Regions from separate parts of the Homo sapiens genome. Here region 1 is linked to region 2. Evidence: fine-mapped expression QTL. A gene starts in region 2. The other region holds a variant in brackets. All regions are shown on one strand. Distances are from middle to middle. Region 1 holds the start of AKR1B10 (aldo-keto reductase family 1 member B10). Region 2 holds the start of AKR1B1 (aldo-keto reductase family 1 member B).

Region 1 (15,811 bases), 68 kb after region 2:
CAGTGATTTTATGTATTGGGACCAGCAGTATTCATAACTCAGGGATATGATTTCTCCAAAAGCCAAATAGACCCACTGGGCATTGAGCCTCTTAGTTAGTCTGAGGGTTAGGAGTAATTTGTTTTTGGTGGTCTGTGGTATGTTATGGGTCATTCCAGCACATATTACCTCACCAAAACTTTCACAGTGTGTGTGGCCCCTCAATTTTAGCAATCATCTCCAATTAGAGATATGCTTTATAAGCTTAATTACTTTATTCTTAGCTTGATCTTCAGTTTCAGAAATAATCATATCATCAATATAATCTATTATTAGTACATCATCCAGTTGTATTAGATGTGGAGCCCACCTTAACAGTTAGTGAAAATACATGGGAGAGGCTGGGCATGGTGGCTCACACCTGTAATCTCAGCACTTTGGGAGGCTGATGTGGGTTGATCACCTGAGGTCAGGAGTTTGAGACCAGCATGACCAATATAGTGAAACCCCATCTCTACTAAAAATACAAAAACTTAGCCAGGCGTGGTGGTGTGTGCCTGTAGTCCCAGCCACTAGGGAGGCTGAGATAGGAGAATTGCTTGAACCCAGGAGGCAGGGGTTGCAGTGAGTCAAGATCGTGCCACTGCACTCCAGCTTGGGCAACAGAGCGAGACTCTGTCTCAAAAAAAAAAAAGAAAGAAAGAAAGAAAGAAAGAAAATACATGGGAGAGTTGAAATATTTTTGAAGTAGTACAGTAAACGCATGAGGGCGATCATTCTACATCAGAGAAAATTGTTGGCTCACCTTCGTGACTGATATGGAGAGAGGTGAATTAGCCATATTAATTACAGATCAATTGCCAGTTGTTTTTACTTTGTTGTATCAGTAGAAGAGTCTGGACCTGTTGGGGACACAGTTTTGCTTTTCCTCTATTCTATTGTGAAGTGAACTGCCATGCCATGAACTGTCAGCCTTCCTTACTGACCATGCCAGGCTATTGTACATGGTGTTTGTGTACGCTAACACATGTGCGTCTAATATTTCCCTAGTTAGGGCTGTCATTTCTTGTTGATTGTTGATATTGTTTCAAATTTACTATTTGAGTTGGCTTAGGCAACTCTCAAGGCTCCCAGTTTCCATGTCCAATTAATACCGAACAAAAACAAATCTACAAGTTATTTTTTAAATCTTACCCAGTAGGGGGAGGAATTTCCTTTCAGAGATTATATCCATACCAGTTACATTTTCAGATAACAGAAATACCACTGTTCCATGGATTTTATCATATATTCTGATATTAATCAGAGTTTAATTTGCATTCTCTCCACAGTCACATCCCCAGGTCTCCCTAAATGAATTCTATCACCCCAAACAGCTCGTTACCAGAGTTAGAAAGTAATATACAGTGTGCTCTTGCATCCAATAGAAGTAAAAGAAGTTGAACAATGAGAACACATGGACACAGGGAGGGGAATATCACACACCGGGGCCTGCTGGGGGCTGGGGAGCTAGGGGAGGGATAGCATTGGGAGAAATACCTAATGTAGATGACGGGTTGATGGGTGCAGCAAACCACCATGGCATGTGTATACCTATGTAACAAACCTGCACGTTCTGCACATGTATCCCAGAACTTAAAGTATATATATATATATTTAAAGAAGTAAAAGAAGCGTTTCCTTTCCATCCCAGGCCGCCTTTACGTTTGTAAAAGGCTTTGGGTTCCACAGCTAGATGGGATTCAAACACTAAGCAAGGCTCACAGGATCCAAAATGGCAAGGCTTAGAAATCTACAGGTGACTACAGGAAAAGAAAACAATAGAGAAACAGCCTAGAAGTGAGACTATTCATACTAGTCAAAGGCTGTCTCCAGCAAAGGGTCTGGAGGAGCTGGTCTGGGCTCCAAGTTTTCTTCCTTTCTTTAAGGGTTGTACCAGGACATTCTTGAATCAGAACCACTAATATATGTACAGAATCCATTGGAACTAAAGGGTCAAAAGTGGAATCTAATCTTTCTGGCTACATCAGAGTTTTCTTGCTACACAAGCAGAAAGAAGGACAGAGCCCTGTAAGAGTTTATACTGAGGTGCACATCACCAATTTCAATGTTATCAACAACAAAACTGATATAAACTGCCACGCAACTCCCCAGACCCAAAGTCGTAAAGAAACACTGTTAATCATTATGGTTCATATCTCATGCCAGGGAGGTGCCTTTATTTATTTTAATAAAATGTATCAGGCTAATCCAGGCCTGCTGAAATTAACTCTTACAGCACAGGTGGATATAAATTAATTTTTTAAAAAATCTCCATTTATGTTACATAGAGATACAGTTCCAGTGGAATTTTATAATAGATGTTTAATGGTTTATCAAAAATTTAAGAATTTATGCTTAAAAATTATTGTTGCATAAATACTAATTTTAATGATAACTTGATTCAGAAGAAAATTTTTCTAACCCCCAGAAACTTATGATCACAGGATATAAAGCATAAACATTTTAATGACCGTGAGTCATTGTAAGATACATTTTCTGAGGATTTCATGTGTATGAATATTATTATATTCTCCCATTTAAATGGCAGTTTGGCTGGATAGAAAATTCTGAGTTTAAAGTTATTTTTCTTCAATACTTAAGAAAAAATTTCTCCATTGCCTTTTTGTATTCAGTATTCTGACAGGGGTAAAAAGCAGACTGCTCTGAAAATAACCTGATTTGTATATTTGAATTTGAAACTATGCATATTTGGCTTTGGAACATAATTCTAAAACAAAACACTTGAAAAAGAACCCCTGGAATTTAAAACCAAAATAGAATTGTAAAAAAATACATACCTTAGGCCCCTGAAATCACTAAACTAAAGGGAAATGTCAAGCTGGGAACTGCTAAGACAAACCTGCCTCCCATTCTATTCAAAGTCACCCCTCTGGGCCCGGTGCGGTGGCTCACATCTGTAATCCCAGCACTTTGGGAGGCCAAGGCGGATGGATTACCTGAGGTCAGGAGTTCGAGACCAGCCTGACCAACAGGGTGAAACCCCGTCTCTACTAAATACAAAAAATTAGCCAGGCTTGGTGGCACATGCCTGTAATCCCAGCTACTTGGGATGCTGAGGCAGGAGAATTGCTTGAACCCAGGAGGCGGAGGTTGCAGGAAGCTGAGATTGCACCATTGCACTCCAGCTTGAGCAACAAGAGCGAAACTTCATCTCAAACAAACAAACAAAGTCACCCCTCTGCTCACTGAGATAAATGCATATGTGATTGCCTCTTTTGGAGAGGCTAATCAGAAACTCAAAAGAATGCAGCCATTTGTCTCTTTATCTATGATCTGGAAGCCCCCTCCCTGCTTCGAGTTGTCCAGCTTTTCTGGATGGAACCAATGTTCATCTTACATATGTTAATTGATGTCTCATGACTCCCTAAAATGTATAAAACCAGGCTGTGCTCTGACTATCTTGGGCACACGTCATCATGACCTCCTAAGGCTGTGTCGCAGGCGTGTGTCCTCAACCTTGGCAAAATAAACTTTCTAAATTAACTGAGACCTGTCTCAAATTTTCGGGGTTCACAGAATAAATAAGCCTAATGGCTCTTAAACTGTTTTCAATACTTTAAAATTGTTTTTAGTAATTACAGTGTGTAGGCTGTGTTGTATTTTTAGTACTATTGCATGTACATTGTGAAATCAAGCAAATTAGCAATTACGTTTGTATCTTTGGGAAGTGAGATATTCAGTGTGAGAGAATGAAGAAACATAAGACAGGTGAGATTAAGCCTTGAAGTTCTTAACTTGAATCAGAAATGTCCATTTGAAGTCGTGTTTTTTTTTGTTTTGTTTTGGTTTTTGTTTTTTTTTTGAGATGGAGTTTCACTCTTATTGCCCAGGCACGAGTGCAATGGTGCAATCTCCGCTCACTGCAACCTCCGCCTCCCAGGTTCAAGTGATTCTCCTGCCTCAGCCTCCTGAGTAGCTGGGATTACAGGCATGCACCACCTTGCCCAGCTAATTGTTTCTTGTATTACTAAAAATACATGGTAGGTTTTTTAAAAGGTATTTCCTACCTCTTTCTACTGAAAAGGCCTGGAAGCAAGATTCAATTCAATTGCAAAGAATGATTCTAGTTCCCTAATTGTGGTTTCTAAATATCAATTTCCACTAAAAGGAAATCTCCTTGGATAAATGTAGGTCTGGAACAGGAAAGCAATGAAGTTACCAAAGGCTATAAAGATTACATGAAAAGAATGCAAAAGCCAATTTGAAGTGCTCTCAGTGGCAAAGAGGATAATTTGGGCATCAATAAGAATAGCAATAGATTATAACATTGAATATATTTAAATTCATGAATTCAAAGAACACTAAATGACAACTAATCTGTCACCTTGGAGGGTGCTTGGAAACCTCCTTTTAAAAACTAAAATAAAAGAATGAATCAATCATTATTCAGTGTTCCTATTCAAACTATACCTCAGGGTAGCCAAATAATTGATTAGGAGAAATTTCTCCTTAAAGAAGTATGCCAGCTAATACATGAAGAAAGAATGGTATAATTAGTATTTCACTGTTTTGTAATGTTATGAAATAATGGATTTAAGTAATGATCATCAATGACTACTGTAAATAATACAAATAAATAAATACAAATAAAGAGGCAGCCAGTCATTCCACCGGAATAGAAGAATACAATGTATAGGAAGTAGCCAAAAAACAAAACAAAACAAGAATTGGATCTGGATTTTATCAAGCCTCTAGGTCTTATTAGTGTTGCCAAGATATTTGGGGGATAGAGTGACATGATAAATACATTTCTGGGAATGCAATAATCAGCAGAATCCAGAGGGCGGGAAACTATAGAGAGAAAGTGATTTTTTGTTTGTTTGTTTTGTTTTGTTTTTTGGCTTTTTTTTTCCTTTCTTTTCTTTTTTTTTTTTTTTTGAGACAGTGTCTTACTATGTCATCCAGACTCCCGGGCTCAAGCAACCATCTGGCCTCAGCCTCCTGAGTGGCTGAGACTACGGGCATGTGTCACCATGCCCAGCTAATTGTTTCTTGTATTTTTCATAGAGACAGGGTCTCGCTATGTTGCTTCTGGCCTCAAGTAGTCCTCCTGCCTCAGCCTCCCAAAGAGCTGGGATTACAGGTGGTGTGAGCCACCACACCCAGCTAACAAATACAGCACAAGGAGAGAAGGTGGGGACGTGTAGTTTTGCATATTTTCAAAATATTTCATAATAAAAAGATTTTTGAAAAATTAAAAAACAAAACTTTGGTGCTCTCAAATAAAATAAAAAATGTTAACATGCACAGGGGATTCAGATTTTGTGATCCTGAAGTTGTACGATCGGGGTTTTCTTTTAAAGAATACAAAATTAAGAATTCAATGTTAGGTACAAAGCCTAAGATGGTGCTCATGCAAGTGAAGGCAACTGAAGGTCAAGTTTTGTTACCTTCATGGTAAATCCAACTCCATGATCACAGCTTTGCAGCTCCTGACCCTCTGGTACCTGCATATCAGTCTAGCTTTAACTCTGCTGGGCACCCTGTAAGTCTACTCTCTGAGCGTCCCCACACTGGCTTCCTCCCGTTCTTCCAATGTATCTTAGTCGCTTCCACCCCTTGGCTCACACTGTTCTGCCCAGAAACTTCTCTGCACTCCCACAATTCTTGGAATTGTTCTTTTTCCTCCCTGTTTCAGATATATTAGTTGCTGCTTCCTCTGTTTCTTAGAGAAATGGATGAGAATGAAAAGCGGCACTACTCGTTCATTTTCCTTCTAAAAATAATTTTGTCTCAATTTTGTATGTACTTAATTTTAACAAAGTAAAACTTCTTATGCACATATATTCATCAGATTTAAAAAATGAGAGTTTCTTAAGGGTACAAAACCAGGAATAGATTGGTAAATTCATGAAGCTAGAAAGTAGCTAATCAAAACTCTTATGAAAACTTCTGGGGTTGATTAAGAATAGCCATAATTCTGTGTAACAAATCCCCTCAAGAGGTGAAATCTATTTCCCTACTCCTTGGCCCCGTCCTGGCCTTGAGACTTGCTTTGATCAATAGAAGGTGACAGAAGTGACACTGCACACATTCCAAGGGTAGGCCTCCTACAATGCTGCTACCTATGAACAAGCCCAAGTTAGCCTCATGGAAAATGAAAAACACATAAAAAGGGTCCCTGCCTTCCCTGACATCCCAGTCCACCCCAGTGAAGCCCACAGAGGTGAGAAAACCCAGCTGACAGACACCACGTGGTTCTGAGACCGGCTTATCAGCTGATTCCTGCCCAAATTGCCAACCCACAAAATCACAAGCAAATAAATGGTTGCTGTAATAACCAGTTTGTTTGTTACACGAAAACAGCTAATCAATATACCTTCTTAATCTCAATTATCTAAAAAAGATATCCCTTCTCACTGATTCATAGCTAAGTGGTTCTGGAAGGAATGTTATTATGAACAATACACATTTCTTTATTCTGTGCATCACATGAAAATGGTCAGAATCAAAATGGAGTCACTAATGTTAAAAAACAAACAGAAGACTCTGACAAATACAGCTGGGAAGACCATGAAAAGAGGGTTCTAATGGTTGTACACCTGAAAACCAAAAGTACCATGAAAGACGGTGAAAACCACAACCTTGAGCAAAGGCCATTGCAACTGAACACAAAACATACTCTGCAAGGACCTCTGAACAACTGCGTGTCCAACCTCAGACTAACACCACTTTCATGATTGATCTTTGGAGCCAAGGCTAATTATTTCAAAGCAATTAGATAATCCTCATTTTTTCCTTGAAAAGTTTTGTCTTCCTTTATTTCCCCAAATATACACATAGTTTACTGTGGCATGCATATTCCCATTGCAGTGCTCTATTCCCAGAGAAATATTTTTCTTGTAGGGACCCTCTCTCTGTTATTTAGGTTGACAGTCACTAAGGATTTACTATTTCAACAATACTAGCACTGCATGTCATCCAGTATACACTGGGAAAATAAAGTGCCGCAAGTGCATATCCAGGAGACTTTGTGGCCACCAGATTATGAGGAATGCATGTATTTAATTATTTATTTTTGGGACAGAGTCTGTCTCTGTCGCCCAGGCTATAGTGCAGTGGCACCATCTTGGCTCACTGCATTCTCCACCTCCCAGGTTCAAGGGATTCTCAGGCCTCCCAAGCAGCGGGGACTATAGGTACGTGCCATCATGCCTCGCTAATTTTTGGATTTTTAGCAGAGACAGGGTTTCACCATGTTGGCCAGGCTGGTCTCAAACCCCTAAGCTCAAGTGATCTACCTGCCTCGGCCTCCCAAAGTGCTGGGATTACAGGTGTGAGACACCATGCCCGGCCCATGCATTATTATTAATGTTGAAGTAGATAATTTAACAAACATCAATGAAGTATAAGATTTTTCACTCATAGTTGCAAAATATCATGCCAATTGCCTTCTATGAGCTGTCATAAGCCACAGCCTAGAGATTCAATTCCATTTCAAGATTCAACCAAAGCCAACTCATCAACAAGAACATGTAAAAGACAGAAAAACCCACTACCGGCAGGCTGAAACAGATGCTGTGACGTGGCCCTGGCCTGTCATGGCGTGTCACAGCATGGCACAGGCCTATATCATGTTCCCTAGATTGCTGACTACCAACTAGTTACAGCTGACTCCAATCAGGTCGGGATTTGACCATCTCTGCACTGAACCTGCAATTGCAACTTTTAAAATTGAAACGCTGCTTCTCACCTCTCCTCCCTAGACTCTATTTCACAGAGGAAACCATCACAGGGAAAGCAAGCCCTTGTTTTTTCTTCCTTCTTTGCTTTGCTTTCTTTCTCTCCTTCCTTCTTTCTTTCCTTCCTCCCTCCCTCCCTCCCTCCCTCCTTCCTTCCTTCCTTCCTTCCTTCCTTCTTTCCTTTCTTCCTTCCTGCCTTCCCTTCTTTCTTTCTTTTTTTTGAGACAGGGTCTCACTGTCTGTCGCCCAGGCTGGAGTGCAGTGGCATGATCTAGGCTCATTGCAACCTCCGCCTCCCAGGTTCAAGTGATTCTCCTTTCTCAGCCTCCCAAGTAGCTGGGATTGCAGATACGTGCCCCCACGCCCGGCTAATTTTTGTATTTTTAGTAGAGGCAGGGTTTCACTATGTTGGCCAGACTTCTTTCCCTCCCTCCTCCAACTCTTCTTTTCTTCCTTGCTGTCTCCCTCCCTACCTTCCAACTTTTGGCTGTGTTGAATTTGTTGACTCATCCTGAACAAGCAGAAACTCCAATGATACTGTCACCTAAGAGAGAACTTTGCACAAGGTTGCCATGTTTAATAATTCATTCACAGAATCCTCAATCTCACAAAAGCCTGGAATGGATTTCCTGTTTGGTTATGGCAGGGAAGCTACTGTGGCCAGGCTCCAACTCCTCCCACTGTAGATAGCAGCAGCCTTCTTAAGCAGCCTGTGGCCGGGCACAGTAGCTCACACCTGTAATCCCAGCACTTTGGAAGGCCGAGGTGGGCGGATCACCTGAGCTCAGGAGTTTGAGACCAGCCTGTCTCTACTAACAATATAAAAATTAGCTGGGAGTCACGGTGGGCGCCTGTAATCCCAGCTACTCGGGAGGCTGAGGCAGGAGAATTGCTTGAACCCAGGAGACAGAGGTTGTAGTGAGCTGAGATCGCACCACTGCACTCTAGCCTTGGCAACAGTGCAAGACTGTCTCAAAAACAGCAACAGAGAGCAGGACGTGAGACTTCTACCTGCTCACTCAGAATCATTTCTGCACCAACCATGGCCACGTTTGTGGAGCTCAGTACCAAAGCCAAGATGCCCATTGTGGGCCTGGGCACTTGGAAGGTAAATATGCAAATCTTTGCACACCCTTCTTCTCTGGAGGGGCGTTTGGGTGTTTTCTCTTTCTGCATTCAGCCAGGAAAGCCTGGAGGTCGGGCAGGGGTTGGAGAGGTAAGATTCAGCCCTGGAGCCAGGACTTAGGTTGCTTTCTTTTCTCAGAGCTGATTCAGGCTGCAAAGCTCCAAGGCTGGCTTTCCCAGCAGTGATGAGAGCTTCTCTAGCAAGTATCAAATTTCAAGCAGCTGTTGGACTTAAAACTGTTTTCCAGGGCAGTTTCTCTCTCTGGTTCTAGGACACTTAATTGGGCTCAACGTTTCCCCCAAGTCTTGGCTGTGGGTTTGTTGTGGGCTGGGTGGTTGAGGAGAGGATGCAGAGCCCGAAGTCCTTGGCACCCCTTTGCAGATCACGGTGTGAGACTTGGGCTAGCAGCATCCCTATGACCTGGAAACTTGCTAGAAATGCAAACTGGCCAGGTGTGGTGGCTTATCCCTGTAATCCCAGCACTTTGGGAAATCCAGACGGGAGGGTTGCTTGAGCCCAGGAGTTGGAGACCAGCCTGGGCAACATGGCAAGAATCCATTTCTACAAAAAATAAATAAATTTTCTGGGCATGGTGGCACGCACCTGTAGTCCCAGCCACTTGGGAGGCTGAGGTGGAGATTGAGTGTTGAGCCTGAGGGGTCAAGGCTGCAATGAGCAGTGATTGTGCCACTGCACTCCAGTCTGGGCAACAGAGTGAGATCCAAGAAAGCAAGAAAGAGAGAAAGAGAGAGAGAGAAAGAAAGAGAGACAGAGAGAAACAAAATGCAGAGTCTCAGGCTCCAACCCAGGCTACCTAATGGGCATCTGCACTTTAACAAGATCCCTACGTGGTTCCTGTACACATTGAAATCTGCAACATGCTGGGGCTGCAGAGAGCCTGGGCTGGGAGTCGTGAGCACCACCCGGCTGTGTTAACGACAGCTGGCAAAATGTGGTAAGGCACATCCAGGACTCAGTGAGGCAGGTTCCCGAGCCTCTGTTAGGCTAAGTTTCAAGTTGTTCCATCACCACCTCCCTCTGCCTTCTTTGCCATTTCCATCCATGATAGCACTACCCTAACTAGTGATGAGAAGCAGTCTTTGGAGTTCCTCTTCTCTCCTGTCCCTCATGGCTAATGTCCCTGCTGAGACTTCTGCCTCTGGCTCTCTTTCCTTCTGTGCACCCTGATTTTTCTTCTCTTCTGTCCCAAGCTAGAGGTTAGGACCCTCTGCTGCAGCACTGGGTCATCCTCAGGATACATTCTTGGTGTATCTGGAGGAACAGATCACTTCCAGCTTGATTCATGCAGAGCGTCTCTTGCTTGAATAGCAAGATTTGCCCAAAATCAGACCTTCAATCCTGTATAAACAGAATAAATAATCACTTCCAGATCTCCAGGGAATCTACTCACCCTGGGTGAGTTTACCAGACAGTTTCATAATTTTGGAATTGAATGAAAGAATTATGAAGGGAGCTGTCTTCAACACGTGGGGATGATAGACTAAAGGATTATGAACTTAGCAGTGGAGGTGAAGAAGGGTGTAGCGTAGCGGTTGGGGGCACAGGGCTGCTTCTGGGTGCCTGGCAGCAGCTCGTTTCTTGTCCAGGTGGTAGGGTAGCTGTGCATCTCTGTTTTGTGTACTGTTCAATGTTTGTTATCTCACAATTGAAGAGGTTTAAAAGACCATTTTGTGAGAGATCAAGTTTTAAGTGCTTTTTTGCCCCCATCATTGGCTTGGCTAGGTTAGAACAAAATGTGATAATTCTATTTCCCTTCTTTTCTTTTTTTCTTTCTTTTCTTTTCTTTCCTTCCCTTCTTTCTCTCCCTCTCTGTCATTCCCCTCCCTCTCTCTTTCTTTTTACAGGAGTGGAAAACAAACTCTATTCCTATAAGGTTTTCTATTTCTCTTTTTTTTCTGAAACGATCATTGTATAATGATGGCCTCTACTGAACCTTACTGTGTGTCAGGTAATGTGCAAAAAGCTTAATATTCATTGCAGCATCTCATCACCACAAAGGCCTCATGAGGCTGGTGCTATTTTTTTTTCCATTTTGCATACAAGGTTTACAGAGATTGAATCACCTGCTTAGACCCACACACCCAGTAAGTGATCGAATCCAGATTGATGGTGTAATGACCATTATCCAGATCCTTATCACCATTTGGGGAAATTGTCTGAAAATCCCTTGGGGTTATTTAGAGTCAAGCTTTCATCTGGGTCTTCAGAAAGTTGTAGTGGAGCGGTCTGCACCCCCACACACCTGAAGACATTTCAGGACTAACCTGGATGAAAAGGGAACTGACTTTTAGCTAGGATAGGACATAAGGACATAATCATAAAATAATTCACTTTCCTTCTTTTCTTTTGAAAAGTTTTGTAAAGTGTGTATCCTCCCAGAGATCCCCTGGCAAAGGAGACCCCAGTGAGGCCTTGGTTTGGAGAAACTGGGCCTTGTGGGGCAGCCTGTTGAAGGTGGCCTGGGGATAAGAGAATATGATGGTTGCTGAGAGTGGTGTAATTCCAGCTACTCGGGAGGTGGGAGGGTTGCTTGAACCTGGGAGTGTGAGGCCAGCCTGGGCAACACGGCAGGGCCCCATCTCTTAAAAAAAACACATATGTGATGAGCTTTTCTTTTGCCTTTCAGTCTCCTCTTGGCAAAGTGAAAGAAGCAGTGAAGGTGGCCATTGATGCAGGATATCGGCACATTGACTGTGCCTATGTCTATCAGAATGAACATGAAGTGGGGGAAGCCATCCAAGAGAAGATCCAAGAGAAGGCTGTGAAGCGGGAGGACCTGTTCATCGTCAGCAAGGTGCAATGGTGCATTTGGTGGGAGGCCTTCACTTCAAGGCAGGCAGAAGTATCTGGGTCGGGTTGGCAGCAAGAACTCTGTCAGCCTTTTCTACATGTACCCCTTTTCATCTCTGCCTTGATAACATCCGTGAATACAACACTATCCATACTCCAAGCCATTATTGATATTTGAACATGTCGTGGCTGCCCCACCTGCCTGTAGGTTGGTTTTCCCATAGTGGGCTTGGTTCCATGGAACCCTGCACTGCCCTGGGCCTCCCTGTTCCCCATCAGAGGGATCTACCATCTGCCCAGAGGCAATCAGAGGCCAAGGGTGCAGGCGGGTCTTGATCTGAAGCCTCCCTTTCAGCACTGTGATCTCAGTGACTGTGCCCCTGAGACTCTCAGCCAGGGGGAATTTTAGAAAATGGTAGGGGCATTTTTCTATTGTCACATATGAATTTCTTTATTCATTCTAGTAAAAGGTGAGGGATACAATGTTATAAAAAAGAAGAAGATGTTGGGTGTGAGAGGGCTGAGAATCACTGGATCTATATTATACATAACTTGCTGAAAAAAAATAACACTAGTTCTAGGTACTTGGAAAATGCATACATCTGGTAGGACAAATAGACCTCACTGTGTAGCAGCCAAGTCTGGATAAAGCCTTTGTAAAATTATCACTTGGGGCCTTATAGGCTTGATAAGGGACCTATCAGATAGGTCAGATAAAGGACCATCTGCTCCCAAAGGCCTAAGAATGCTTGACATTTAAAAGCTACACACAATTCCTGCTCTCAGAGAGCCTACAGCTGAGGAAGAGACTGAGACAGGTAAACAAATTTCAAATCTGTGGCCACATTTACTTCAATGATCTGAGACAC[G/A]TATAGAGTACTAGGACAGTTGAAAAAGTCAATTGCTTTTAACACTTAAGACATGTCATTGAGGTGCTGAGCCCTGGTGATGTTCCACACTGTGTCGTGGATCTTAATCAGCTTTGTTACAAATGGCTTGTGGTGGGTTAGATGAGGATGCAAATCAAAAAGCAGGGACAATGAGTACAATGTGGCCCTTCCTTTTCCCAGTATTAATAGCTCATTGCTACACTCTTTGCAGTTGTGGCCCACTTTCTTTGAGAGACCCCTTGTGAGGAAAGCCTTTGAGAAGACCCTCAAGGACCTGAAGCTGAGCTATCTGGACGTCTATCTTATTCACTGGCCACAGGGATTCAAGGTTTAAGACACTCTCTTTCTCAGCCTCTAGTTTCTGAGCAGGTGCCAGAAAATAGTAGCTGCACCAGGGCTGTGGGGTGGTGTGGACTGGGGCAGGAGGCCTTGCATTTCATAATTGGGAATGGCAGGTGGTCAGGAAGAGACCTTGGAGAAGAAACACACTGGCCTGGAAGGGAGGTTGAGGCCATGTGTGCTGCTGAGGTGGCCACATGCCTGGGTTTTCTTGCAGTTATGTCTGAGAGAAGACATGATTTCTGGCAGCCCAGACAAGTTGCAACTGCCATATCACCTTTGTCTTGATTCCACGCCCCAGGGTTGCCCTCCCAGGAAATCTCTTGGGTTACTCTTGCATAACTATATTCCAGGGCATAATTATCTTATTAAGCAAAGTACACCTGGGAGTGGCATCTTGGAGAAAAGCCCAAGTATGGTGATGCTGGAAGGAAGCCAGTAGTGATCCAGGCACCCATTGCCTGGGGCTCTGCTCTTACCTGCTCCTGAGGGGTGGGAGAGACAAATTTCCAGCTCTCTCCCCTCCTGACCAACTGGAGTGATGATGGCCTGCCACCCCTAATTCCACGCCTCTTCTAGAGGCTGCAAGGATAGAAGTTGGCCAATATCTTCTCCAGAAAACCACAGCTTGGATATCTAATCCTTATCCAGTAATATTGAAATGAAAGTTTGCCCTTGGTTGTATATGGGATCTAGGTGTATGAGGTTAATGTCCATGGTGATAATGAACTTCTGGAATGTACTAGCAGCAAATCTTAAAGTCAAGCCAGTCGTTTCTAAAATATTAGTATGCTACAGTAGATACAGAGATTTTAATTAAACTCACATTCCTAAAGTATGTACTCCAGAACTTGAAAAAGTGGTATGCAGATGTGGTATTTAGCAAGAGTCAGGATCCTGAAACCTTGTTGAACAGAACCAAGTGTCCTGATGCAGATTCCAGTAAACTTTTCATTCTGTGTTCACAGTCTGGGGATGACCTTTTCCCCAAAGATGATAAAGGTAATGCCATCGGTGGAAAAGCAACGTTCTTGGATGCCTGGGAGGTAGGTTCCCAGCTTCCTCTAAGTGTGCTGGGAGAGAAATCTTCAGTTATCCATGAGATTCGCATGGATATGAATGAGGCCATGTGCCTGATGCTTTCTAATTTCATCATTGTGATTTTCTAGCTCTTCTAATATCTTCCTCATCACCTTTGGCTTTTGGGTACATCTGATACTATTTATATTTCAAGGCTAATAGTCTTCAAATAAGACTGGAAATACAATGTACCCCACTTTGGGGAATACACATGCTGTTCTCAAACCAGGGCGAGGCATTTGGAACAGGAGGTTTGGGCCTGGGTGTGCTCATAGCAGCTGAGTAACCTAGGGTCAGTTTTGTAACTCATGTAGGGCTCAGTTTTCTCTTCTTAAAAAGAAGTTGTATAATACATACTACCAATATATATCTTCCAGTGTGTGATAAAGATTAAGATGGTTTACATGCCAGGAACATTAGTCATAAAGCCCATTTAACCCTAGGAGACAGGGTTAACATCCCCATTTATAAATAATGACATTTGAAACCTAGATTGTTTGATGACTTGCCCAGGTCTTGTCACAATGTGTGTGGCAGAGCTGGGATTAGACCCAGACTCATCTGAATCACAAGTCCAACCACCAAAGCCATCAGCATGGTGCTTGGCAGGCAGTGAAGACACATCCAGAAATCAGGGAGCCTGAGTGCTCTGCTTCTCAGATCTAACCATGACCTGTTTCACGTCATTCACATTCAAAATGAATGAAGGGATGAACATTTTCTCTGGTCATTTTTTATTATTTATACCCTTTTGCAAATGCTAGTAGAGAATGAAGTGGAGGAATAAGTTATAAATGAACAGTGGCTTATGACTCCAAGAGTTAATCGTGTTATTTTGGTAGCTGTCTGTGTAGGTGTGCATGTAGTTGCGAGTTTGTATTGTGTTTTACAAGCAAAAATATATTATGTTTCAACTTTCTGAAATGCTTATAATTGACATGATTCAATGAAATGTAGCTTTTTCTGTGTATTGTTTGTTCAAAAGCATTAATCCACAAGCACAGCTTTTTGTTGTTTTTATTGTCTTAGACACTCTCACTCTGTCACCCAGGCTGGAGTGCAGTGGCACAATCTTGGCTCACTGCAACGTCCCTCTACCAAGTAAAAGCCATTCTCCTGCCTCAGCCTCCTGAGTCGCTGGGACTAGAGGTGCATGCCACCACGCCTGGCTAATTTTTGTATTTTTAGTAGAGATGGGGTTTCACCATGTTGGCCAGTCTGGTCTCGAAGTCCTGACCTCAAGGGATCCACCTGTCTTGGCCTCCCAAAGTGCTCAGATTACAGGTGTGAGCCACCACACCTGGCTATTTGCATTACATATGATAAGATTTTTTTATCTTAACTCTTATGATGCCATGAAGTATGGCAAGTATGTCAATGTAGCCTGCTTCTCGCAGTGCTGTTTTTTGAATGAATACAAGAACGACTGCTAAATAAAACATTTGAAAGGCATGAAAAGATAGCAGTGATCAAGATCAGAGGCTCTGATTTGAAATGAGCAGGCTTGAATATGTAAGCGTTGGATGTTTATGTAGACCCACAACCAGTTCAGTAGAAACCTCACTGACCACATTGAAGCAGAGAGGAGGAAAAATGTATAAAGAAGTCAAGTTCTAATACAGGAAAACTAACCTGACCTATGTGCACAAAAACTTTTAAATTATCTAATTGCCCCATCTGAAATTTTGGGAAACCTAATGATTTCACAGCTTCTAAATTCTACTGCCCAATTTGGATAACATCATATATCCTAGTGGTTCTCAACGTGGCTATGCATTAGAATCACCTGAGGAGTTTAAAAATCCCAACGTCTAGGCTACAACTCAGAGAAAATCTGTAAG
Region 2 (15,811 bases):
TGGAATGACCATTCAACAGAGAGCCAAGGATGGGCGAGCTCTGGAGCCCTGTATGGCCGTGGGTGATACGTTTCCCCGGGAAGAATCGCCCATCAGTGAAAAGTGTAGCTGTATTGAGTGTGGACTTGGCTTTGGGCTGATGCACCAACAGATGATGGGACCGAGAGCCCCTTCCAGCCCCACCGCGGAACGATACCTTGCTGACGATGAAGAGCTCCTCACGCTTCACCACCTGCTCCCTGAGCTTCTCCTGAATGGCCACCCCCACCTCATTCTCATTCTGGTACACATGGGCACAGTCGATGTGGCGGTACCCGACGTCAATGGCCACCTTCACGGCCTCAGTCACCTGCCCTGGAGGGGACTGAAAGGAGAAAGAACGTGAGCCCCGCAGAATGCAGAGTCTGCACAGCAAGGAGGAGGGGCAGTGGCAGCCACCGATACCTGCTGACCAGCCTGCCACTTTGTTCAGCAAAGACAGACCACGTGCACTTCCTCAGCAGCATTCTGGACTATCAGCCTCAGACGCGGGGGATGGAAGTGAAAGGCCACACAGCATTGCCCTGTAGGAGAATCTGACAGCCACTTAAGTGTAGGTGAGATCACTTTTAAAAGATATGCTGAAGCCATCTCATTTTCTTGCTTCTTCACATCCACTGATTTGCAAACCACTGTATTAAAAACATTTCCCCACACTCTGAATGCTGAGATAGTAAGGGAAACCATTTCCTTCAAATATCTCAAAATATTTCAAAAATAGATGTCCTATGGACCCCAATTCCCATGTGGCTCCCCAGTTCAGCCAGTGAATGCCTGCCCCTTACGCTCTCTTTTCATGCATGGCTTCTGATACCGGCAGTCGCTTGTTTTCAAGCGGTTCTGGGAGATTATCATGAAGTTAAGCACATCACTGATGTTTATTCAAAGGCCCATGTGTCAATTCTCACTGTATGAGGATCTGCTTCAAGGGGTGGAGACACGGGAGATGGCCCCTCAGAGGTATCAGCAGAGAGAAATAAGTTAAAGGGAAACGAGGGGGAATGTGGATCATGGAAGATCACCAAATGGTTAGTGGCTGACCTGGCAAAATGACTGAATGGGTGTCCATGGCCAAGCCACCTGACCATCTGAGTAACCAGAACAGCTGTGGGGAGCCTGGCTACTGAAGAGGAGGAGGAAGTGCCTACATGGCATCGCGCTTCACTGGCACCCAGGTAGGCTGCATGGACACGTATCCCCCAACTTTCACTATCCTGCTATGATCACAGAGCTGAGCAATAAACATGTGCAGCGGGCTGTTGAATGAACAGAGCACATTCCTTTGGAGAGCTGGGGTAGAAACAAATGAAAAGAAAAACCCCCCAGGGCCATAGCAGCTGCAGACATCTGTGTTTTGACATCAGCTATTTTCAACAGGCTTTGGGGAAGAAAGGGGCCCAGTTGAACAAGCCCGTTACCAGAGCCTGTTAGCATGGAGCTCACTCTCCACCTCAGAGGGAGCAGCGAGGCAGGGTGGGGATGCTCATCGAAGGTGTGGGTTAAGAGGGGACGACCCTCAGAGGACCTGGCGACCTCTTATTTGACTGGAGGACCTCAGAAGCTGCTCTTGCAGCCTTCCCCACTCTGCACGGTTGAAGGAACAGAGAATCTCAATTTCCAGAAAGAATGCCTTACCACAGGCCCTGAGTGGTGTCCGGGCACAACCACCACTGATGACAGCAGGGAGAGCAGAGGACATCCCTACCCCAGAAAGAACAACTGGGGCCCAGGCAGGAAACTGCCCAGGACACACTGAACTTTCTCCAGGCTTGATGGCGCCTTGATTGATTTTTCTCTGAGGAGCTGCTGAGGGCACACTCCGCAGGCTCAGCCTAGCCACGCACTGCCTGCCATGCAACTGGTGCGGGGACAGGAACATGACTCAATCCAGGCCATAAGACTCAATCTTTGCACTTGAATTGGAACCCCTGAGTCCAGCCCCGGTTCTGCTGGGGTCACTGAGCTGGGAGAATGTCAGCCTGGAGCTGCTGCAGGAAAGTGGAGGGAGGCCAAATCCTGGTGACAACATTTACAACCCTGAATCTCAAACACCTAATGTCAGCGGCTGTTGTTTGGGGAAGTCAATCAATCCCCACCCCAAACACACTTTTTTTTTTCCTGCTTAAGATTAAAGTGGTTTTTCAGTTCTTTGGAACCAAAAGAGCACAGACTAGGATAATCAAGCTTGCGTTGGCACGACATGAAAAAAAAGTTGTGAGAGGTTTTTCTAGAAAAGTAAAAGACAGCAATGACTGCAAGAGGTCACGAAGAAGCTGCTGATCATTCCTTGGATATGTGCCATTCGCTGGAGACATGTGTGCTGGGAGGCTGATCAAAGGTGCTGGAGGGAAAAAGTCACCTCTGCAATGAAAATGTACGAGGATCCACAACCACATTCTATGTTAATGATCTCAATGTACAGCCCTTCCCTGAGAGAAACTAATTTGCCTTATGAAAAATGAAGCAGCCAACTTAAGCTATGGTGAGAAACCATTCACTAAACTTGGGAATGCCAACACAGGATGACAACATCTCCCCATTCCATGTCAACAAAGAGAAAATGCAAACAGAAGGAGGGGTCCAGATTGACTTCTAAAAAGAAGGTAAACTATGAAAACATGCTGGGTGGCATCCAGGCACAGCCATTACTGATGAGAGCTGTAGAAATGCAGTATATGAAACACTCCAATTACAGCTCAATCATACAAATCCTACATGTTTCTAACCCGATCCTGCCACTAATCTGTGTGCCCTTGATGGGCAAAACCATGCATGCCCATTCCTCCCAGAACTTCTGGCTCTGCAAAGCTCTACGTTGGGCAGTGACTTGAAATGCTCTGGGCTGATGGCACCAAGTGATGGCAGTGAGAAGCCTCTGCCCTTGAGTCCTCCACCACCTCCTTCAAGACAGCGGTCCTAGTTCCTCCTTTGATAACACCGGCTGGCTAATACCAACTCTGAGACACTGATAACTAAAATCAGTGTCTCCCTCCTACACAGATACAACACTCCTTTTAAAACCTAGTCTTCTTCCCTTTTGCTTACAGGTCTTGCTAGTTACTTCAAGATACCCCTCCCTCTCTTCCCTCTGCAAGTCAAAAAGCAAGCCACAGTGCTAAACAGGAAGACGGTCACAGGACAGTGTTTATGGTAAAACCAAAGTATCTCAGAGATTGGATATTTTGCAATATTAACCACGGGGATCTCTGGGAACAGGGAACTCTTCATTTTTGAAATGTTCTCTAGTTAGCAGGTGTTACTACTGAAATCAAAGGATAAGGGGAGGGGGCAAAGGAAACTTCACTTTGGGTAAAGAAACGGTCCTGAGTAGGAAGCATGAGAATGCTGTGCTGATAATCCTGGAGCAAGGAACAGGAAACGATCACTCAGAATCAGGTTTGGCAGCAGAAATTAACTTCCTCCTGTTCTGTTTTAATCAATTTGTCCCAAATTCTAAGACACTGCTGTTTCCAACTAGTTGAGATGTGCATGGACCAGGACTGACCCTGTAGGGGCAGGGCTTATTTAAATGTCTTTGGTCTTGAAGAGGAAGAGATGGGGGCTTTAGAGACACCAGGGAAGTGAACAGTAAATCTGGCTCCTGTGTTACCTCCATGCCCACAGCGCCTCAACCCTCACCCCATCCAAGGATCTTGGGCCATCACAAGCTTACCCCACTTGGGGAAGGTGGAGCAAGTCTTTCCTGGCACATTTTCTTTTACCTCATGCATTCTTAAAGTGGGTGCTATTGTCCCCAAAGAGACAAAAATTAGTTCTCTGGGGCAAAAAAACCCCCCTCAGCTTATAGAACAGCTTGTGACCCTCTAGAAGGCTACTGGCCATAAGCAGAAGTACAATATTATCTCTGATATTACAATTTTATTTTGGGGCAAATTAGGGGAAAAAAAAGTCTCACAAGGCTCCTAGGTGGGAGGGAGGTAGTGATCATGGCAAAAGATGGAGAAACATAGTTGTACCTTCAGCCCTAGGAGTATTCTGTGAGCATACATAGGAGACTTACAATGACTTTTACCTCCAACAATTTTTCAACTAGATTAAAAACACTATCAGTAACAAGACACTGGTGGGCACCAGACATCATCTCTGTTTTAAAAGCTTCCTGGCTTTACAATGCTGTGATGGGTTTTTGTTGTTGTTGTTGTTTCTGAGACCGAGTTTTTTTTTGCTCTTGTCGCCTAGGCTGGAGTGCAGTGGCACAATCTCAGATCATGGCAACCTCTACCTTCTGGATTCAAGTGATTCTCCTGCCTCAGCCTCCCAAGCAGCTGGGATTACAGGCACCCACCACCATGCCGGGCTAATTTTTGTATTTTTAGTAGAGAGGGGGTTTCACCATGTTGGCCAGCTGGTCTCGAACTCCTGACCTCAGGTGATCCACCCGCCTTGGCCTTCCAAAGTGCTGGGATTACAGGTGTAATTGTTTACTATCCAATGTAGAAGGCAAGACTGCCAGAAAGAAACCCTGTCCAAGCCACATGGGTCTGGGGCAGAGATGGTCTCCCCATCTGCCTGAAACCCTCACCTGAGAAGAGAATGGAGTTTGAGGACCTTCAAGAGTAGAGACTACCAGAGCCCTGCTGAGGGTCTGAAAGGTACAACACAGCCGCTACGGCATGGGAAGACCCAGGAGAATAAGGAACTGCACCTGCCTGCAGGGCCTCCTCCAGCTGTCACAAAGACAGGCAAAGGATCACATCTTCTGTCGAGCATCTGTGAAAGAATACATACACACATACAAGGGAAAGGTTTTTTTGTTTGGTTGTTTTTTTAGATGGAGTCTTGCTCCATCGCCCAGGCTGGAGTGCAGTGGCGGGACCTCGGCTCACTGCAACCTCCACATCTGGGGTTCAAGCGATTTTCCTGCCTCAGCCTCCCAAGTAGCTGGGACTACAGGTGCGTGCCACGATGCCGGGCTAATTTTTTGTATTTTTAGTAGAGACGGGGTTTCACCATGTTAGCCAGGACGGTCTCTATCTTCTGACCTCATGATCTGCCCGCCTCTGCCTCCCAAAGTGCTGGGGTTACAGGTGTGAGCCACCGCGCCCGGCCCCAGGGAAAGGTTTTAAGTCATTAAAAAAAAAAAGGAAGTTGATTCCAAGTCCATCCTTATACCATTACTTTGACCCACCATTCCCCGCTGCCCCCACCGTACAATTCTACACCAACCTGATCTCCTCATCCACAGGAATACAAGTGGGCGTTTTCACCATACAGCTATCTCTAAAGTCGTTTTACTTCTTCATATGAATTCAACACATAACTTTTGGATACCTACTCCTATATTTGCCAGGCACTGTGAGAAGTGCTAGAAATAGTAATGAATGAAGCAGACATTATCCAATTTCTCAATGAACTCTGTCTACTGGAATGCATAACCTAAATGTACAGATGTTATGATGTGATGTTATCTTAAACAAATACATAGCTTTTTGGGGCATTGAGTGCTCAAGTGAATAATCTGAAACCCTCTTTCATAAACTTTTACTCCTCAGCCTGGACAACATAGGGAAACCTGTCTCTACAAAAAATTAAAAACAAACTACCCGAGTGTGGTGGCACACACCTGTGGTCCCAGCTACTTGGGAGGCTGAGGTATGAGGACCACTTGAGCCCAAGAGGTTAAGGCTACAGTGAATCATGATCATGCCACTGCACTCCAGCCTGGGTGACACTGAGCCCCTGTCTCAAAAAAAAAAAAATAAACTTTTACTCCTTATTTACCCTAGAGTAGTGATTTTCAAATGATGGGTCACAAAACTAGCTTCTGGAGGTATGACAATAATTTTTGGAAAAATGGAATAGAAAAAAATATTGAAATGCAGCCTACATAGGTTAAGTACTGTTAAGTAATTTTTATTCCAGTTACATGTATATATCTGTGCGTTGCATCATGCTTAGAAAGTATTTGCTATTGCCAAGAAAGCATCCTTCTGCATCCATTCCAAGAGCATAACATGCAACAGATGGAAATTAGCTTGGTGTCATGGTTGTAATTCAATTACAACCTTAGAGACACCACTGGAGTTTTTGGAGGAAACAAATCACGTACCCTGATCATTCTGGCCAAGAAACACTCTCCCTGATGCAAATGACCTTTTTCTTACCTTATATTTACTAATTTTCAACAGCAGGTTTTAGGGTACATGTAAACTCTTCTGTCCTATTTCAAACATCTCACAGTTCACTCAGTTCTTTCTGTTGTTTTCTTCCCTTGTCTGTGTGTAAATATCCAACGCCCAGGCCCATATTCAAATTTTAAGAGAAAAACCTGGGACGTGGGCCTGCCAGATGGTTCACACCTGTAGCTTTGGGAGGCGAGGTGGGAGGAGCGCTTTGAGCCCAGGAATTGGAGATCACCCTAAGCAACAAGCGGAGACTGTCTCTGCGGGGAAGAAAAAAGATTAGCCAGGTGTGGTGGTGAGCGCCTGTAGTCCCAGCTACCCGCAGTGCTGAGGCAGGAGGATCACTTGAGCCCAGGAGTTCCAGGCTGCAATGAACCATGATTGTGCCACTGCACCCCAGCTTGGGCAACGAGACCCTGTCACAAACAAACAAGCAAACAACAAAAACAGAAACTGAGAAACCCAGGTTATGGCTGTGGAATATAATATGCAATACTTAGAAGGTTAAAAATTCTAGGTTTTGCCTCAGCTCCCATACCACCACCTTTGTTGCTCAATTTTCAGATAATCAGGCTCAGGCTATTATTTTTGGTTTTTCATATCATATTATCATTTTTCATATCCTATGATGTTTCATGTCCTATTGTCATTCTCATCCGGCTAGGCACTTCTCGGGGACGCTGTGTGGTGTTGAGGTTTTACAGGGAAAATGCTAACCTTGGCGCCTCCTGAATTATCAACTAGCTACGGGGTGCCCAGATTTTTCTCCCGAGTTCCAGACCCAGGGCACCCCGAGGCGGCGCCTGGCCGAGGAGCTCCGCACTGCGCCTTGTTAACAGCTGGGTCCGGGCAAACTCGCGCCACCTAATTCTCTGCCCTCTACCGGCTTGAGATGCTTATTCCTCAGGGAGGGCAAGAATCGAAACGATTGAGACCAACTATTTACAAGTGAGGCAACCGGGCTACAGGTGCCTCGAGGGAAAGGAGGCTGGGTCTGCGCTCCCACACCTTGCCGACGGCTCCACGTCCCTGTCTGCGCCCGAGGTCCACCGGTCTGTGAAGCCCACTTTCCCCGCCTCCCTCTCGCGTTGTGCCGCTTGGGGCGCCCGCTAGGACCCAAAATGCGGACTGGTGGGCCGCCCATCAAGGGTTGCCCGCGGTAGGGCGGGGGCTCCCGTGAGCTGCTCCCAAACCCCACTCGCAGGATGCTGCCCTGACGCCCAGGGCCAACCCGGGGAGCCAAGGCCCCCGGTCTCTGCAAGGCCGACCCCAGCCCGCTGGGGACCCTGCAAGCCCGCGCGTGGCTCCCAGCACGCCGGGCGTCCGCGGGGCGAGCTGCTCAGGGTCACTCGGGGTCCCTCGCCAATACAGGCCGCGCGGAGAGTGTGAGGCGAGCCCCGGGCCCGCGCCCCCACGAGCACCTACCTTCCAGGTACCCAACCCCAGGATGGGCATCTTGGCGCCGTTGTTGAGCAGGAGACGGCTTGCCATGGCTGCTGCGCTCCCCAGACCCCCGCCCAGTACGGTGCGGCCTTGGCCGCGGCGCGTACCTTTAAATAGCCCGTGAGGTCGGCAGAAAGGGCGCCTGCGGTTGGCGCGCCGCTGCGCGAAGGAGCCTTCTGATTGGTTGCGCTGGGGGTGCCGCGGCGGCCTTCCCCAAGGGTCGGCGGGGATGCTTCTTCCGCCTGGTCCTAGTGGCAGCGGATTCTTTCCGCCCCCAACGCTCGCCCGCGCCCCGCGTGGCAGAAAGGAGTTCCTCAGCTGCTGTATCTGGTGGGAAAGCGAATGCTTTAGCGAAAATAACAGGCATCCCATAAATACATAGACTAGAAATAAGTTTTGGTTTCATTAAGAGCCCAGAAGAATGCCTTTGTTGTCCAACCCCAGTTTGATGCTCTTTGGGAATCTGACGAATACCTTGTCCTTAATCTATGTGAATCATACTGACTACACATATAGTTTACCGCACTTTGTTCTTAGACAAAGGTGCATGCCAGAAAAATGGCTTGCAATCCTTTTGCAAAGCACCTTCACAAAATATGGGTTTGCCCAGACTTTTTGTAGCCTTCTAGATCTCTCTTTGCACCCCACTCTAGGTGTTAGCTGTGTCTGTGCATACTAGGTGTGGTTCAGCAAGCCTTCCACCAAAAGCCAGCATCCTTTGATGTTCTTGAGGTTAGAAAGCCTTGATGGGCTTGATCCAGAACTCTCAGAAGAATTTGGAAAGTAAGGCTGTCCATTCAGAATCAGTAAGACAAATTTCATCAGTCTTTGGAAAGTGAGACTCTATCAAAGCAGTAAGTTCCAGTACAGTAACTTATCAAAACTCTCTAGAGGAAGAAAAGTGAACAGACAGAAAACCACAGAAGAAAAAGTTGACTCTAATATTGTAGCTTCCAGTATTTCAAATTAGAAGGTACAAAATAGTAAATTGATCACCCTAATTGGCAGGTAGAAACACACATTTTTCCAAGATAGCCTAAGAAAAGTCACTTGAAGATCCTTGAAGACAATTTTGGTTTCTTTCCAACAACCTCTCTTCATGATACTCTACCTCACCCCAACTGCTCTTTCTGCTCCATCACCCTCCGATCTTTCCCCTAATTATGCAAGATTGGGAACTCCATCTGCCTGGTAGTGACTCAAGCACCAGGTCTCTCTAAACTCCATGCCGGTGATTTTCCATTTGGTGCTTTCTTTAAAAGTGCTCCCTCCTGGAAAAATTTATACAGAACAGACTAGCCCAGATATTTTTCCATGTAACTTTTGTAAAAATTGTTGCTATTGGGCAAATTCATTTGTCCCCAAGTAATAGAATTTGAACTTGAGCCTAAAGCTGGGAACTTGCTTTGTGTAAAACAGCAAGTTCCTTCCTCCATGAGAGTCCTCTTGACTTGGAGGTTGCTCTGCCAATTGAACCTCCTGGGTCCAAATCCAAAGAGCTAATCTCTTGTGAAAATGATACACCTTGAGTGGCCAGGTTGGTACACACAGAAGGGTCGTCTGTTAGGGACATGGACTCAATATCAGAGGCTTTGTTGTTGGTTTGATAATAATTGAGTATACAGCTTGATTGCATGAAGTTATAACTGTGTCTAAAGCTGGAGTGATACCTGTAGTCTCAGCTTCTCAGGAGGCTGAGGTGGGATGACTGCTTGAGCCCAGGAGTTAGAGACCAGCCTGGACAACATAGCAAGACCCTGTCTGTAAAATAAATAAATAAACCCAGAATATTTTGGCTGGGCCATGCAGACATGAAAAGTTGTATCAGTGGAATTTCTATAGCAACAATAGCACTCTAGTTGGGACATGCTATTGTGATAGCCCCCTAACATCCCCCATTGCCTCTGTAATCTTTGTAAAATGTACACATACCAAAATTTTTGATCTCAAGATTTTTGATCTCCCATCTTTTGATAAGTATACATATCAAAATTTTGTTTGAAAAAGGGAAAAAAACCTTCAATGGAATCCTCCTGAGAAACACTCTAGTAATTGGAATCTTAACATGCTCTGAACCAGTAATCTCCCATCATGGGAATTTTTCCTAAGGAAATAATTTAAAAGGAAAACACACACACACACACACACACACACACACACACACACACACACACACACTAGGTATAGGGCTGGGCTGGGACCAAGGTAAGACAAATGAGGTACACAGGTACAAATTTTCATGCCAGAAGGTAGGAGCTTTTTTACATTTATGTCCTTGGCACTTGCCTTCCCTTAGTCCCAGGCCTGCACACAGATATACACATATGCGTATGTATTTTTAAAATGCTGTATACTTAAAGTAAAACTGTAAATATCCAACAATAGCAAGAGATAAGGTGTAGCCATCAAAAGTAAAGATGACAAAGACACAGAGAAAAATGTATATGAGGTAATGTTAAGGTGAAAGTAGAAAACAAAGTCATATAGCTATGGAATGATGCTAAGAAGGAAAATACAACCTATAACATTTAGGAAATTTAGGAAGAAGACAGAAGGAAATGGGGAATACTCTTTGTCAGATTATTTCCTTAATGAACACATTTTGAATTAAAAGACAACTTCTTATGAACTGTCCAATTCCCATAGGATAAAACCTAAACTCTTGAGCCTGGCATTCAAGGCCCTGCGAGATCTGGTACAAGTTTGAATATACAAAAAAACCACCCAATTGCATATTTAAAAAGGTAAATCATATGGTACGTAAATTATACATCAATAAAGCTTCTATAAACAAACAAAGGTTATATGCTACATGTCCAACACAAGCTGGTGGAGCTGAGGGTGACAGTAGGCTCTGTTCACATTGTCACTCAGGGACTCAAGCTATGGAGGTCCCACCACATTGTTTCCCTGCTGTCCCAACCCAAGGTTTCAGGGTTTGGCTTAGGAAGGCAAAAGAGAACCTAAGAGTCTCAAATGAGCAATCAATTGCTCAGTCCTGGAAGTGGCACACATCACTTCTACCTATAATCCTTTAACCAGATCTGGTGGTAGAGCCCAGCCAGGCCTATCTTCAATGGGATGGGGAAGTGTCATCCTCCTGTATGCCAGAAAACAGAAGTGAATGGGTATGGTGAGCAACAGAAGTCTCTTCCACAACGACAAACCACTACTGAGTCTTTATTATGGTTTGGACACTGTATTATGGTTCAGCACTTGGCATATGTTATATGAAGGTGCTGCTGCTGCTGCTTATATATCTATTGAGTTATGTACATTAAATCATTTAATCTTCATAACCACCCCTTTCATGGATACTATGATCAATCCATGTTACACGTGAAGAAACTGAGATGCAGAGAAGTGAGAAAAATTGCTAAGATCTCACATTAAGTAAATGTTAGGGTCAATATTTAAACCTAGGAATTTGACTATAGCACTCAAACTCTTAACCACTACCAGTAGCTTTCAAATTTTTAAACTGTGACTCACACTAAGAATTTTGGAATGAGTGACGTCAGGAAGAAGGCTGACTAGAAATGCCTAGTTCTTGTCCCCACCATAAGAAAGGACCAAGGGAATAAATAAACCGCTAATATTTAACTGCAATTATGAAAAAAGAGCATTAAAGTGCAATGGGGGAGTAAAGGGGTACTTGTAGTGATTGGAAGCCCAAGAGAGTACCATGGAGGCACATGGCCTCTGTAGCCCCATCTTGCCTGCCACAATTGCATCAGCCCAGAGACAGGAGGGAAGTCCCCTTTTAGGGAGAAGGTAAAAGAACCTCACCAGTCTCCATTGCCACTGTAAATGACTCCAGTCCTCATTACAAAATAATCCCACAGTCCTTGCAAGCCCCGTGCCCAGTTTGAAGAGCTTCTGGGAATCCATATAGCTGTATCACTCCGGATTAGGAGCACAGGGTGTGTACACACCCTTCCCTTAGTGAGCCAAGCTGCTGCAGCATGGCGCCATCTTGAGATTAGAGCCATTTCTGGACTGTGCCTTGCTCTGGGGGCCGTAGCCATTGCACTTCTCCAGCACTGGGGCTCCATCTTCATTCCACCAAGCCCACATGTGGGCCAACTGCACAAAGACTGGGCCCAGGATTGGCTATGACTCTGGTCCTGCACCACAGTGAAACCAACCCCTGTCATCTGCAATACAGCTGGAGGAACAGTCTGACAGTCTCACCCAGGGTGAACCTTCCTTTAAGCCAGCCAAATGGCTGTGTGTCCTCCCTCAAGCAGGAGAGGTCCCTAGCCCATCAAACAGCTGACATGCCTGCCCCCAGGCCAGCAGAGTGGCCATATGCAGATGTACAGGGCCTGAAAAACAGGCCTGTAGCACCTACTCCCTCCATGAACACACCCTTGGATTGCCTCGCATTCACAACCAGGGCTTGGAGAAACTTGAGAAGCTGACTGAGTAGCTGTGTGAAGCCCATAGGTGGCTGAATCCCACAACTCCAGCTGCATGGATTCTGGGCCCAGAATTGCCTGTGACTCTGGTCCTGCACAGCAGTGAAACCAACCTACACTGTCTGGTTTTACAGTTGGAGGAAGACTCTGGAAGTCTTGTCTGAGGAGAGCCTACCCTTAAGCCAGCTAAACTGCTGCACACCCTCTCCCAAGTGAGAGAGGTCCTTGATCCACCTAACAGCTGACATGCCACTGGGCCCACAGAGCAGCTGTGTGCCCATGCCCAGGGCCTAAGACACAGTAGCAGCATGGGACCACACCCCTACCATGGACATGCTGCTGACCTGCCCAAAGGACCTGCATGTGCAGTCAACGCTTGAGAAACAGCCCTGTTGGCCACCCCCAGCAGACATGCACCCAGGCCAGCCAAGAAGGTGTGTGGCTGCATCCCATACCTGAGAAATGGCCTTGTGGATTGCCCTGGCAAACACACTTCCAGGCAGCCAAGCAGCCATGCACTCATATCTTGGGCCTGGGAGATAGCCCCATAGGCAATCCTTAGAAGGCAAGCAGGCGGGCCATCAAAGCAGCCACACACCTGACCCCCAGGCTTGGGAAACAGCCCCATGGCACTAAATCACAGAGAGCCAGACCCAAAGTTGGCCAACCCAATGTGGCCACACATGCACTCAGACATGAGAAAGGCCTGGCAAGACCACCATGGCAAAGCTGCACTGCCACTGCCACAAAATCTCTCAGCCTAGGACACCGAGATACTCATAAACATTGCAAGGATAGATTATAGTTGAAGAAACTATGCAGATGCTACACTACTGCATGCACCTAGAAACAAAGCCAACGCACTGCCCTGAAGCTACTCCCCAAGACCGATCTATGAGAATAAGTCTTTCCATATAAAACCTACTCCATGAAATTGGAAGGAGTGACTGTTCCACCAGATGTGTAGAAATCAGTGTAGGGACACATCAAACAAGAAGAAGCAAGGAAACATAATACTTCCAAAGGAACACAGTAATTCTCCAGTAACAAATTGCAATAATAAGGAAATACTCAAAATGCCAGGAAAAGAATTCAAAATAATAATCTTAAAGAAACTCAATGAAATAAAAAAGAATAAAGATAGAAAACTCAACAAAATTAGGAAAACAATTCATGATTTGAATAAGAAATTCAACAATGATAAGAACCAAACAGAAATCCTAGAGCTAAAGAATTCAATGAATAAAATAAAAATACAACTGAGAGCTTCAATGACAGATGAGATCAAGCAGAAGAAAGAATTTCTGAACTTAAAAGATAGGTCATTTGAAATAAAACAAGCAAACCAACAAAAAAGATAAAAAGAAAAAAGGAGGCATACAGGAGTTATGAAGCACCATTAAGCAAACAAATATTTGCATTATGGTATTACAGAAGGAGAGTATAAAGGAAATGATATAGAAAACTTATTTAATGAAATAAGTCCAGGCACAGTGGCTCGTGCCTGTAATCCCAGCACTTTGGGAGGCCAAGGCAGGTAGATTTCTTGAGGTCAGGAGTTTGAGACCAGCCTGGCCAACATAGTGAAACCCTGTCTCTACTAAAAATACAAAAATTAACCGGGCATGATGGTGGGCACCCGTAATCCCAGCTACTTGGGAGGCTGAGGCAGGAGAATCACTTGAACCTGGGAAGTAGAGGTTGCAATGAGCTGAGATCATGCTACTGCACTTGCCTGGGCAACAGAGTGAAACTCCATCTCAAAAAAAAAAAGCATATTTAATAAAATAATACCTGAAAACTTCCCAAATGTTGGGAGAGAGACTGATATCCTGATTCAGAAAGCTCAAAGAATCACAAATAGAGTCAACCCAAACAGGTTGATATGCCTCTTCTGAGGCATATTATAGTCAAATTGTCAAAAGGCAAAGGCAAAGAAATAATTCTAAAAACAGCAAGAGAAAAGCATCAAATGACTTATAACACAATCCCCACTAGACTAACAGTGGATTTCTCAGCAGAAATTTACAGGCCAGGAGAAAAAGAGGTGATATATTCAAAATACTGAAAGAAAAAACGACCACTCAAAAATATTATACCCAGCAAATCCGTATTTTGGAAATGAAGAAGAAATAAAATCTTTCACAGGCAAGCAAAAATTAACGGAATTCATCACCACTAGACCAGCCTTGCAAAAATGCTCAAGGGAGTCATACATCTAGAGGTGAAAAGACCCTAATCACCATCGTGAAAACACGTAAAACTATAAAACTCATTGGTAGGGCCAATACACAAAGGAAAAAGGGAAGTCAAACCTATCTCTACATAAAACCACGCAACCACAAAAATAAATAATAAGGGAGGAAATAAAGAACAAAGGACATACAAAACAACCAGAAAATGATTAATAATGACAGGAGTAAGTCCTCAACTATCAATAATAACCTTGAATGTAAATGGATTAAATTTCTCATTTAAGAGATATAGACTAGCTGAGTTAATTAAAAGAAAGAGGACACAACTATATGCTTCCTACAAGAAACTCTTTTAACCTGCAAAGATGCACATAGAAAGTGATTGAAAAAGATACTCTACTCAAAAGGAAACAAAAAAATGAGCAGGAGTAGATATATCAGACAAAACAGAATTCAAATAAAAAGCTAAAAAGAAAAATAGATATTATGTAATAATAAAGGAATCAATTTAGCAAAAGAATATAACAATTGAAATGTATGTGCACCTAACACTGAAACACCTAGATACATAAAGCAAACATTATTAGATTGAAAGGTAGAGATATACTCCAATAGAGTGATAGCTGAGGATTTCCAAACTCCACTCTTGGTATTGGACAGATTCATCTAGACAGAAAAACAATTAAGCAACATCAAATTTAAATCGCACTATAGACTCAGTAGACCTAACAAATATTTACAGAATATTTTACCCAACAGTTGCAGAATACACATTACTTTTGTCAGGACATGGAACATTCTCCAGTATTGACCATATGTTAGGACACAAAATAAGATTCTAAAAATTTTTGAAGGCCAGGTGCAGTGCTTCAGGCCTGTCATCCCATCACTTTGGGAGGCTAAGGCAGGAGGATTGCTTGAGCCCAGGAGTTCAAGACCAGCCTAGGCAAAATAGTAAGATCCTGTCTCTACCAAAAAGAAAAAAAATTAGCTGGGGCTGATGGCACATTCTTGTGGTCCCAGCTACTCAGGAGGCTGAGGTAGGAGGATCACTTGAGCCCAGGAGTTCAAGGCTGCAGTGAACTATGATTGCATCACTGTACTCCAACCAGCCTGGGTGACAGAATGAGACCCCGTTACTATAAAACAAACAAACATATAAATAAATAAATAAAACTGAAATTATATCAACTTTCTTCTCTGACCACAATGGAATAAAACTAGAAATCAATAACAAGCCCGAGGCCAGGTACCCAGGCAAGAATGGCAAGTAGACTTCACTCACATGCTGCCCAAAAAATGGCTCTGCTATCTTCTAGTCTTTGTCTGTACTTTCTCCGGGTGGGTAGAAGCATTCCCGACAACTTCAGAAGGTGCAAATATCATCACACAAACCCTCATCATGCATATAATTCCCTGTTTCAGACTCCCAACATCCATCCAGTCCAATAACAGGCCCACCTTCATCAGTCAAATCACCCAAGGCATCTCTACATCCTTAGGTATAAAATGGGTTCTCCACACACCCTACAGGCCTCAATCTTCAGGCAAAATTGAAAAAGTTAACTCT

The links.
Region 1: its variant is fine-mapped to the expression of AKR1B1 in whole blood (TOPMed, PIP above 0.99).

Annotation. Positions count from the first base shown.
Region 1 is chr7:134,519,146-134,534,956 of GRCh38, forward strand. It overlaps AKR1B10 (aldo-keto reductase family 1 member B10), which reads left to right and starts at 8,422. Exons shown (of 10, transcript NM_020299.5): 1 at 8,422-8,832; 2 at 11,498-11,665; 3 at 12,763-12,879; 4 at 13,859-13,936. The coding sequence starts at 8,767. The variant G/A (reference allele first, on the strand shown) is at 12,531.
Region 2 is chr7:134,451,390-134,467,200 of GRCh38, forward strand. It overlaps AKR1B1 (aldo-keto reductase family 1 member B), which reads right to left and starts at 7,711. Exons shown (of 10, transcript NM_001628.4): 1 at 7,608-7,711; 2 at 197-364. The coding sequence starts at 7,673. RefSeq lists a silencer at 7,321-7,510 and an enhancer at 11,776-12,276.